2 separate regions of the Homo sapiens genome follow, and region 1 is linked to region 2. Evidence: fine-mapped expression QTL. A gene starts in region 2. The other region holds a variant in brackets. All regions are shown on one strand. Distances are from middle to middle.

What was found. PIP is the estimated chance that this variant, and not a neighbour inherited with it, causes the effect. A credible set is the group of variants that fine-mapping cannot tell apart.
Region 1: its variant is the best candidate, but not a certain one, in a credible set for the expression of KISS1R in whole blood (INTERVAL, PIP 0.71).

The regions. Positions count from the first base shown.
Region 1 is chr19:894,139-899,463 of GRCh38, forward strand. It overlaps R3HDM4 (R3H domain containing 4), which reads right to left. Exons shown (of 8, transcript NM_138774.4): 7 at 5,302-5,325; 8 at 2,365-3,402. The coding sequence ends at 3,299. Among named protein-coding and RNA genes, the nearest start is that of RNU6-9, 3.3 kb to the left of the region's middle. RefSeq lists a silencer at 4,638-4,838. The variant AG/A (reference allele first, on the strand shown) is at 2,219.
Region 2 is chr19:914,290-919,650 of GRCh38, forward strand. KISS1R (KISS1 receptor) reads left to right here and starts at 3,044. Exons shown (of 5, transcript NM_032551.5): 1 at 3,044-3,457; 2 at 4,255-4,379; 3 at 5,201-5,336. The coding sequence starts at 3,214. RefSeq lists silencers at 2,785-2,924, 2,935-3,024, 3,425-3,624 and an enhancer at 4,618-5,361.

The sequences.
Region 1 (5,325 bases), 20 kb before region 2:
GATTCTCCTGCCTCAGCCTCCCGAGTAGCTGGGACTACAGGCGCGCACCACCATGCCCAACAAATTCTTGTATTTTTAGTAGAGACGGAGTTTCACCATGTTGGCCAGGATGGTCTCAGTCTCTTGACCTGGTGATCTGCCTGCCTCAGCCTCCCAAAGTGCTGGGATTACAGGCGTGAGCCACCGCGCCCAGCCTGTTTTTTCAAAATTTTAATAGCGATGGGGTCTCACTATGTTGCCCAGGCTGATTTCAAACTCCAGGCCTCAAGCCCTCCTTCCACCCCGGCCTCCCAAAGTGCTGGGATTATAGGCGTGAGCCACCGCGGCCTCACTGCATGATTTTTGCAAGAATTCTGCAAATATAAAACTGTTCTAAAATTACAGGTTAACAATGGCCCAAATATCAGAGTGTTTTTTCTGGATCAGGGTTCAGTTCTCCAAGAGGGCCACGCAGTGACCTTACAGAAAATCCCCATTCCCAGGCAGCAGGTAGGGATTTAACGTTCTTAGCGGCCCGGGTGTGGTGGCACACACCTGTAATCCCAGTACTTTGGGAGGCCAAGGTCTGAGGACAGCTTGAGTTTGAGACCAGCCTGGGAAACATAGCCAGACCCCGTCTCTACAAAAAAAAATTAAAAATTAGCAGGGTTGGGGAGGGAGGGGCGCTGGGCAAGGTGGTTCAGGCCTGTAATCCCTGAACTTTGGGAGGCTGAGGCACGCAGATCACCTGAGAACAGGAGTTCGAGACTAGCCTGGCCAACATGTTGAAACCACATCTCTACTAAAAATACAAAAATATTAGCTGGGCATGGTGACACATGCCTGTAGTCCTAGCTACTCTAGAGGTTGAGGCAGGAGAATCACTTGAACCCAAGAGGTGGAGGTTGCAGTGAGCTGAGATCGCGCCACTGCACTCCAGCCTGGGGGACAGAGCAAGACTCTGTCTCAAAATAAATAAATAAATAAATAAAATAGCTGGGTGGGGTGATGCACACCTGTAGGCCCAGTTACTCAGGAGGCAAAAGTGGGAGGATCACTTCAGTCTGGGAGGTCAAGGCTGCAGTGAGCTGGGATTGTACCTCTGCACTCCAGCCAGGGCAACAGAGCCAGACCCTGTCTAAAAAAAAAAAAAAAAAAAAAAGAGAGGTTGAATTCCTAACTCCCACTACCTCAGAATGTGACCTTATTTAGAAACAGGGTCTTTGCAGAGGTAATCAGGTTAAAAGGAGGTGATTAGCATGGGCCTAACCTAATGACGGGCATCATAGAGATGGATATTTGGGCACAGACACGTGAGGAGAGGACGATGTCAAGACAAGACATAACACACAGGGAAAACGGCCACTTGGAGATGAGACCACAGCAATGTGGCCACAAGCCATGGACACACGAAGTCCCCAGAAACCGGGAAAGGCAGGAAGGCTCCTCCCCTAGAGACGCTGGAGGGAGCACTGCCCTGCAGACACCATGACCTCATTCTTCTACCTCCAGCATTGTGAGAGGATAGATTTCCCTTTTGCTTCTCTTTGACCTAGGGTCTTCCTCCATACCCAGGCTGAAGTGCAGTGGCACGGTCTCAGCTCACTGCAGGCTCAAGTGATCCTCCCACCTCAGCCTCCCAAGTAGCTGGGACTACAGGCGCACACCACACCCTGCTAATTTTTGTGTGTGTGACAGAGTTTTGCTCTTGTTGCCCAGGCTGGAGTGCAAAGGTGCGATCTCAGCTCACTGCAGCCTCTACCACCTGGGTTCAAGCAATTCTCCTGCCTCAGCCTCCTGAGTAGCTGGCATTACAGGCATGCACCACCACACTCGGTTAATTTTGTATTTTTAGTAGAGATGGGGTTTCTCCATGTTGGTCAGGCTGGTCTTGAACTCCTGACCTTGTGATCCACCCGCTTTGGCATCCCCAAAGTGCTGGGATTACAGGTGTGAGCAGCCACCATGCCCAGCCAACCCTGCTAATTTCTCTCATGTTTTGTAGAGACAAGGTCTTGCTATGTTGCCCTGGTTGGTTTCAAACTCCTGGGCTCAAGCGATCCTCCTGCCTTGGCCTCCCAAGGTGCTGGGATCACAGGCATGAGCTACTGCACTGGCCTTCTGTCGTTTCAAGCCCCCTGTGTGAGACCCTCCATTACAGGGGCCCCAAGGCACTCGTACAAGCCACTCACTCAAGGTCTACAGGGGCCCCAAGGCACTCCTACAAGCTCCTCACCCA[AG/A]GTCACACGGCAGGCATGTGGCAGAGCCAGGGTTTGAATCCAGGCAACCAAGGGCAGAGGAGCCAGGGGGGCACCTGCAGCCCTTGGTGGCCAGGACCTACTAAGCCCCCGGCCCTGCCCCGAAGAAAAACACACATAGCCCGAGGCCAGAGCACCAGAAATTTATTAAATTCCCCACTTTCCCCCAAAACACAATTACCCACACGCAGCAAGGGGGTGCGGAGGCCCCCCAGCCTGGCTCCTGCAGCCTGGGCCAGGAGGACCAGCATGGGGACACAGGAGCTATCAGGCAGGAGTCAGGCTGGGGGACGAGGGGACACGGGATGGGGTGACAGACAAGGTAGTGCAAGGGCAGAGGCTTCTGGCTGGAAGTCCTGGACCCCCAGCATAAAGGAGGGGAGGAAAGGAAGGGGGCTCATATAAAGCAGGAGACCCTGAGCCCCGACACAGGTGGCGTGGGGGAGGACACGCAGAATGACGAGGATAAAACCGGCTCTTAGGACCGTGGCTTCTGTCCTGGGTCTCAGGGCACACGCGCGCACACATATACAACACAAGATGCTTCTGGCATGAGGGGCAGGGTCCCAGAGACCCCACCCTCATTCAAGCTAAAAACTGGGAGGGGCTGAGCAGGGGCTGGGACCAAGACCCATGTTTTACCAGTGGGGCGAGTTTTTTTGGTTTTTCTCTCCAAAAGGGAAATTTAAAAATCTACAACAAATCACACCAAATTCATTAAAAGTGATAAAAACCCAGCCTCCCCCTCCTCACTTGAGCTTCAGACCGGGCCAGAAAAGCTCAACGATGAAGAAACAGGAACATGCCCAGGTCAGGTCTCCCCACCCAAACACAAGTCCCGGAGTGGGAAGCTTGGAGCTGGGATGGCATGGGCAGCCCCAGCCGCCAGCGTCTGTTGACTGCCAAGAGCTGCGTGAGGAGGGGGCAGAGTGAGAGAGACCACCCCAAGCGAAAAAGGTTTCCGAGGACAAATTCTAAAAATATGAAAGATATTTTAGCCGAAGGTATCGGAGGGCTTGATGGCTGGGCGAGGTGGCAGCGGGGTCTCCGCGGGGCCGCCATCAGCTGTGCTGCTCCAGGTAGGCGGACAGGAGCAGCCCCGGCGGCAGGAAATCCAGGTGCCGATTACTGACCTTCATCTGCCGCTTCCCCTCCAGGTCAGCACCTGCAGACGGGACCAGCGGGGCAAGAACGGGAGGAATTTGGGAGCCGCGGCAGGTAGAGGTGCCTCGGACCTGCACCACCCTCGCTTCTTCCCAGGGAGGTCACCGCCAGCTGGTGTGTGCTGGTCACTGCGGCCTGGCTGGCCCTAAGCCCGCAGGTCCGGGAGCCTGGCTCACAAGAATACCTAAGGCTCCCTACAGGAGCACTCTCCTCGGGCCCATCTCACTCCCCGCTGGCACTCATTCCACTGTGCGGATGGGGACCCTGAAACGCACTGGGCCTGAGGCCGCATGGCCACTCACACGCCTGCCTGGCGGAGTGTCCGGCCTCCCCTCAGGCTCCCTGCCCTGCAGAGGTGGCTCTGAGGCACCCAGGTCCTGAGTGGTCCAGCTCCCACCGGCCTCCCCTTCCCCATCTCCCCCTCACTGCAGAAAAATGAATGACCTGGCCAGGCGCAGTGGCTCATGCCTGTAATCCCAGCACTCTGGGAGGCCAAGGCAGGAGGATCATCTGAGGTCAGGAGGTCGAGACCAGCCTGACCAACATGGTGAAACCCTGTCTCTAGGGCTGGGCGCGGTGGCTTAAGCCTGTAATGCCAGCACTTTGGGAGGCTGAGGCAAGCGGATCACGAGGTCAGGTTGAGACCATCCTGGCTAACACAGTGAAACCCTGTCTCTACTAAAAAAAAAAATATATATATATATATATACAAAAAATTAGCAGGGCGTGGTGGCGGGCACCTGTAGTCCCAGCTACTCGGGAGGCTGAGGCAGGAGAATGGCGTGAACCCGGGAGGTGGAGCTTGCAGTGAGCTGAGATCGCGCCACTGCACTCCAGCATGGGTGACAGAGCGAGACTTGGTCTCAAAAAAAAAAAAAAAAAAGAAACCCGTCTCTACTAAAAATACAAAATTAGCCGGGCGTGCTGGCCGGCACCTGGGATCCCAGCTACTCGGGAGGCTGAGGCAGGAGAATCGCTTGAACCCGGAGGTGGAGGTTGCAGTGAGTAAAGATTACGCCACTGCACTCCAGCCTGGGTGGCAGAATGAGACTGTCTCAAAAAAACCAAACCTAACCAACCAAAACAAAAAAAAAGAGCCACGTCCCATGTGAGCTCCGCGCCTCAGCAGTCCCCTCTGCCTGGGACCCCCCCGTCCTCTACTCCCCATCTTGCTGGGACCCCTCCTCTTCCGTGTCAGGACCACAGCTCCACACCCACCAAGCTCCAAGCCCCGCACCCCCAGCCAAGGCCGGATGTTCTGAGCAGAGGCAGGCATGGGGGCTGCGTCTCCCACAGAGGGAACAGAGGGAGGCATCGTCCGGTTGCCATGGAAACTGTCACCTCGGCAACTCCAGGCGGGGCGGCAGAGACAGGTGTGAGAGGCTCAGGACCAGATGGGGTGCCTGGGGCCGGCGGCGCCTGCACAGACGTTCACTACGGGGGTGAGTTCTGAGACTGCGCCCCGTTGGAAAAGTGGAGCGCAGGGGCCAGTAGGGGGTCTCGCCTGAGGTCCCACGTGTGGTATGTGGGAGGCCTTAGAGTTAAATGCAAACCTTCCAGACACTGCGTCCCCCCATCTTATCTCTGGCTCTGGGAGGTCCCTCAAATCCAGGCTTCATCACCCCCACCCCGGGCCCCGAAGATGCAGATGGAGGAGTGTCTGTGTCCAGCAGCCTGGTTGTGTCTGCGGTCACCCTGCGTGGGGCCGCATATGCAGGGAGCTTCTGGTGAATTCAAGGCAGGGTCCCACTGCCACCCCTGAGTTCGTAGCGTCCCCACTCCAGCCCCCTTCCCCACCTCCCCACCAAGCCCCACTCTGAGGAACCAGGCCCCTGGGACCCTGGCCACTTTCCCAGGTTGAGCTGGCCAACTTGGGGTCTTGGGGGCCACCGGCACTTACTGGCCGAGATGAGGTCCATGTACT
Region 2 (5,361 bases):
ATAAAGCAAGAGGGAGGCTGGGCACGGTGGCTCGCACCTGTAATACCAGCACTTTGAGAGGCCAAGGCCAGTGGATCACTTGAGGTCAGGAGTTTGAGACCAGCCTGGCCAACATGGCAAAACCCTATCTCTACTAAAACTACAAAAATTAGCCGGGCGTGGTGGTATGCACCCATAGTCCCAGCTACATGGGAGGCTGAGGCACAAGAATCGCTTGAACATGGGAGGCAAAAGTTGCAGGGAGCCGTCCACTTCACTCCAGCCTGGGCCACAGAGTAAGACTACTCTGTCTCAAAAAAAAAAAAAAAAAAAAAAAAAATAGCCAGGCACAGTGGCTCACGCCTGTAATCCCAGCACTCTGGGAGGCCGAGGCGGGTGGATCATGAGGTCAGGAGATTGTGACCATCCTGGCTAACACGGTGAAACCCCATCTCTACCAAAAATACAAAAAATTAGCCGGGCATGGTGGCAGGCGCCTGTAGTTCCTGCTACTCAGGAGGCTGAGGCAGGAGAATGGAGTGAACCCAGGAGGCAGAGCTTGCAGTGAGCCGAGATTGTGCCATTGCACTCCAGCCTGGGCGACAGAGCGAGATGCTGTCTCAAAAAAAAAAAGCAAGAAAGAAAGAAAAAGAAAGAAAGAGTAAGGAGGAAAAAGAAAAGGATGAGAAACTGTGGATGGACTCAAAAAAGCGTGCACTGTGAGATTCCTGTAGATAAATGTGCAAAGAGGTGAAAAAGGACAATGGAGAGATGTATCAGGAGTGACTGGCAGGGGAGCTGGGCATCGGGAATGAGTGGTTTCCCCATCCATCAGGCACAGGGTAAGGGTAGATGCTCAAAGAATGGACCTGAACATTTATTCGTGAGAGAGGGAGGCAACTCCAGAGAACTTCCTGGGCCTTCCTCCCATTCTGGGTTCCAGGGCTTCCCTTCAGGGGCCTGGGCCTGTCCTGTCTGTACCTTCTTCTTCTTCTTCTTCTTCTTTTTTTTTTTTGAGAGAGTCTCGCTCTGTCACCCAGCCTACAGTGATGCAATCTCAGGTCATTGCAACCTCCACCTCCTGGGCTCAAGTGATTCTCCTGCCTCAGCCTCCCAAGTAGCTGGGATTACAGGCACCCTCCACCAAGCCCGGGTAATTTCTGTATTTTTAGTAGAGACCAGGTTTCACCACGTTGGCCAGGCTGGTCTGGAACTCCTGACCTCAAGTGATCCACCTGCCTCGGCCTCCCAATGTGCTGGGATTACAGGCATGAGCCACTGTGCCCGGCCTATTCATTTTTTTTCCTCCCTTTTTTGTCTTTTTTTATGCAAATGGAAGCACCTTTTTCTTCGCTGTGTATTACTCCATGATGACCAAATGTCTTGGACTCTGTTGCAGGATGGACTTTGGGGGAACCTCCTGGATGTCATCCTGGGGTACACTTCCAGCTGTGGGATTATGGAGTCAAGGTTGTGCTGACCAGGCTGGGTGGCTCATGCTTGTCATCCCAGCACTTTGGGAGGCTGAGGCAGGAGGACTGCTTGAGCTCAGGAGTTCAAGACAAGCCTGGGCAACCTAGTGAGATCTTGTCTCTACAAAAAAATTTAAGGGGGGAGGGGGGAGGGATAGCCTTAGGAGATATACCTAATGCTAAATGACGAGTTAATGGGTGCAGCACACCAGCATGGCACATGTATACATATGTAACTAACCTGCACATTGTGCACATGTACCCTAAAACTTAAAGTATAATAATAATAAAATAAAATAATAAATAAAATTAAAAAAAAAACTTTATTTGCAAAAAAATAAAAAATAAAAAATTTAAAAATAAATTAGCTGGACCGGGAGCAGTGGCTCACGCCTGTAATCCCAGCACGTTGGGAGGCCGAGGAGGGTGGATCACCTGAGGTCAGGAGTTCGAGACCAGCCTGGCCAACGTGGTGAAACCTGGTCTCTACTAAAAATACAAAAATTACCCGGGCATGGTGGCAGGCACCTGTAATCCCAGCTACTCGGGAGGCTGAGGCAGGAGAATTGCTTGAACCCGGGAGGCGGAGGTTGCTTTGAGCCGAGATCATGCCACTGCACTCCAGCCTAGGCAACAGAGCGACACCCTGTCTCAATAATGATAATAAAAGGCCGGGCGCGGTGGCTGACGCCTCTAATCCACCACTTTGGGAGGCCGAGGAGGGTGGATCACGAGGTCAGGAGATCAAGACCATCCTGGCTAACACGGTGAAACCCTGACTCTACTAAAAGTACAAAAAATTAGCCGGGCGAGGTGGCGGGCGCCTGTAGTCCCAGCTACTAGGGAGGCTGAGGCAGGAGAATGGCGTGAACCAGGGAGGCGGAGCTTGCAGTGAGCCGAGATGGAGCCACTGCACTCCAGCCTGGGCGACCTGAGCGAAACTCTGTCTCAAAAAAATAAATAAATACATAAATCAGTAATAATAATAATAATAATGAGGCTGTGGCGTTTGCAAGGTGCCCTCCACCTGGTTCCCGCTGCTAGTGTCCCTGCGGGTATCAGACACCCCTTGTCAGTCATGTGGGACACATTCAGTCCCAAACCACCAGATCGGGGACGTCCCTCACCTGCCCTGAACTTTCCATGGCTCTCCAGGGTCCTGGGGACAAACCCAAGCTATCCTCACTCAGGGTCTCCGCTGAGGGCTGGCCTCCCCGCCAGGCTGGGCCCACCCCCTGGAGCCCCAGCCCCTACGAGGGTCAAAGCCCTTCCCATATTCACAGGCCTTAGAGTTCGCGCCTTGGCTGGGCTCCTAGTCCGGGCTGAGCGTCTACTCGCTGGTTAAGGTCGGTCCTTCCAGGTCCACAGCGGCCTCCACGCGGCCCACCCCCTGCCTGCTCCGCCCCCTCCAGCCCCCTCCCGCGCTCTCACTCCGACCTTGCACCGGGAGGAGGGAATAGGGGGGTTGCCGCTGGGTGAATAGAGGGCGCGTGGGCAGGGGAGGGAGTGGCGAGCGGCTGCCGGAGAGGCGGGAAGGCAAGGCCAGGGGAGGGGGGCACGGGCTATAAACGCTCGGCCGCAGCGGCGCCGGCAGAGGAGCCGCCGAGCCCAGCACAGCTGCCCTCTGGACCCTGCGGACCCCAGCCGAGCCCCTTCCTGAGTTCCACAGGCGCAGCCCCCGGGCGGTCGGGCGGAGGGGTCCCCGGGGCGGTGCCAGGGCGCAATCCTGGAGGGCGGCCGGGAGGAGGAGGTGCGCGCGGCCATGCACACCGTGGCTACGTCCGGACCCAACGCGTCCTGGGGGGCACCGGCCAACGCCTCCGGCTGCCCGGGCTGTGGCGCCAACGCCTCGGACGGCCCAGTCCCTTCGCCGCGGGCCGTGGACGCCTGGCTCGTGCCGCTCTTCTTCGCGGCGCTGATGCTGCTGGGCCTGGTGGGGAACTCGCTGGTCATCTACGTCATCTGCCGCCACAAGCCGATGCGGACCGTGACCAACTTCTACATCGGTGAGTGCGGGCGCTGCGCCGCACCTGCTGCCGTCCCGGGGGCTCCGAGGGCCGAGCGGCCTGGGGCGCCCTCTCGCGACGCATCGGGGCCCTCTCGGACCCGGCTCTGTCCCCTGCAGGGGTCCCCCCCAACCTCGAATCTTTTCCCTGTGGTCCCTGCACCTGAGGCTAGAGGTCGCAAACTCCAGCGCGGGCGGGCCCGGGCGGGCCGGAGGGTGGGGAGTGTGGCACATGGAAACCTCGACCTGGCCACTCGCGGGGCTCGCCCCGGTGCAGCGCGGGCCAACGGCTCGGTGTCAGCTGAACAAAGGGCTGGGGGAGGGGCTGGCTTGGCCCGCGGGCCTTAGTTTGCGACCCCTGCCCCGGTGGCTCTCTGAGCCTGTTTATGCATTTGTGTCCTGGGGTCCCCTATCACACACAGCTGTGAGCCCAGTCGGTGGCTGCTGGGCCGGCACCATTGTCTCCAGTTTGCAGTTGTGGAAACTGAGGCTCAGAGGGTCAGGGGCCTGCTTAGGCTCCCCCAGCCCGGACAGGGCCCAGCAGAACCGATTTCTGCCGGAATGGCCAGGAAATCCGAGCCGGAGGCGTAATGTTTGAGATGTAAGGGGGAATTACTAGAAGGCGCCCCAACTTCTCCGCCCGAGGAGGCCAGGGGCGCTGGGGGAGGGGGGGGCCTCCCTGAGCCATCCTGCTGGTCACTCGGACCAAGGTGGGGGCCAGGGGTCAGGGCCAGGAGCGCTGGGCGGTTCCCGCGGCCAGTGGCGCCCACGCCCAGCGCCCGCGCATCCCCACCGCAGCCAACCTGGCGGCCACGGACGTGACCTTCCTCCTGTGCTGCGTCCCCTTCACGGCCCTGCTGTACCCGCTGCCCGGCTGGGTGCTGGGCGACTTCATGTGCAAGTTCGTCAACTACATCCAGCAGGTGCGCTCCGGAGCAGGAGGGGAGAGGGCGCACTTGGGGACGGGCGGGGGTGCGCTCCGCAGTGGGAGGGGAGGGGACGCACTTGGGGACAGGCGGGAGTGCGCTCCGCAGTGGGAGGGGAGGGGATCGTACGTGGGGACGGGGAGGGGGGGTGCGCTGCGGAGCAGGAGGGGAGGGAGCGCACGTGGGGACGGAGGGAGATGCACTCAGAAGCTGGAGGGGAGGGGGCGCATGGTGGGGCGGGGCAGGGGTGCACTCTGGAGCAGGAGGGGAGGAGGCGCACGTGGGGACGAGGAGAGGGGATGAGCTCCGGAGCGGGGGGCGGGCGCATGTGGGGAGGGGGAGCCCACGTGGGAAGGGAGGACGGACCTTGGGCGGGGCGCGAGGCAACGCATAGGAGAACCAGGGGCTGGGGTGCCCAGCTTGCGGGAAGGGGCTGGGCGGTGGTGCAGCCTAGAACTGGAGTGGGGGGCGGGAATGGGGGAGGGATGCAGACGGGGACCCGGGTCACTGGTGAGGAAGGGCTACTGAGGCCCTGAGGCTTCTTGCCCCGCCTGTCCCTCCATCCCACGCAGCCCCCCTGTCTCAGACTCGGGGTATCAGCCGCCCCCCAAGGGCTCCCTCACTTCCCCAATCCTCCTGCCCTCCTCTCCCAGTCTCCCCACCTTCTGTCCCCTCAACCCGCACTGGACACTCCTCCCAGGACACTTCCCGTGTATGTGCCTGAGTGTTCGCACACGTAGGGGGATCAGCAGGGCGGGCGGACAGGGCAGGCTCCCAACCGCGCAGGTGGCCACACGCCCGGCTGGCGGCTCCCGCAGGTCTCGGTGCAGGCCACGTGTGCCACTCTGACCGCCATGAGTGTGGACCGCTGGTACGTGACGGTGTTCCCGTTGCGCGCCCTGCACCGCCGCACGCCCCGCCTGGCGCTGGCTGTCAGCCTCAGCATCTGGGTAGGTGAGTACAGCTCAGGGGCCTCACG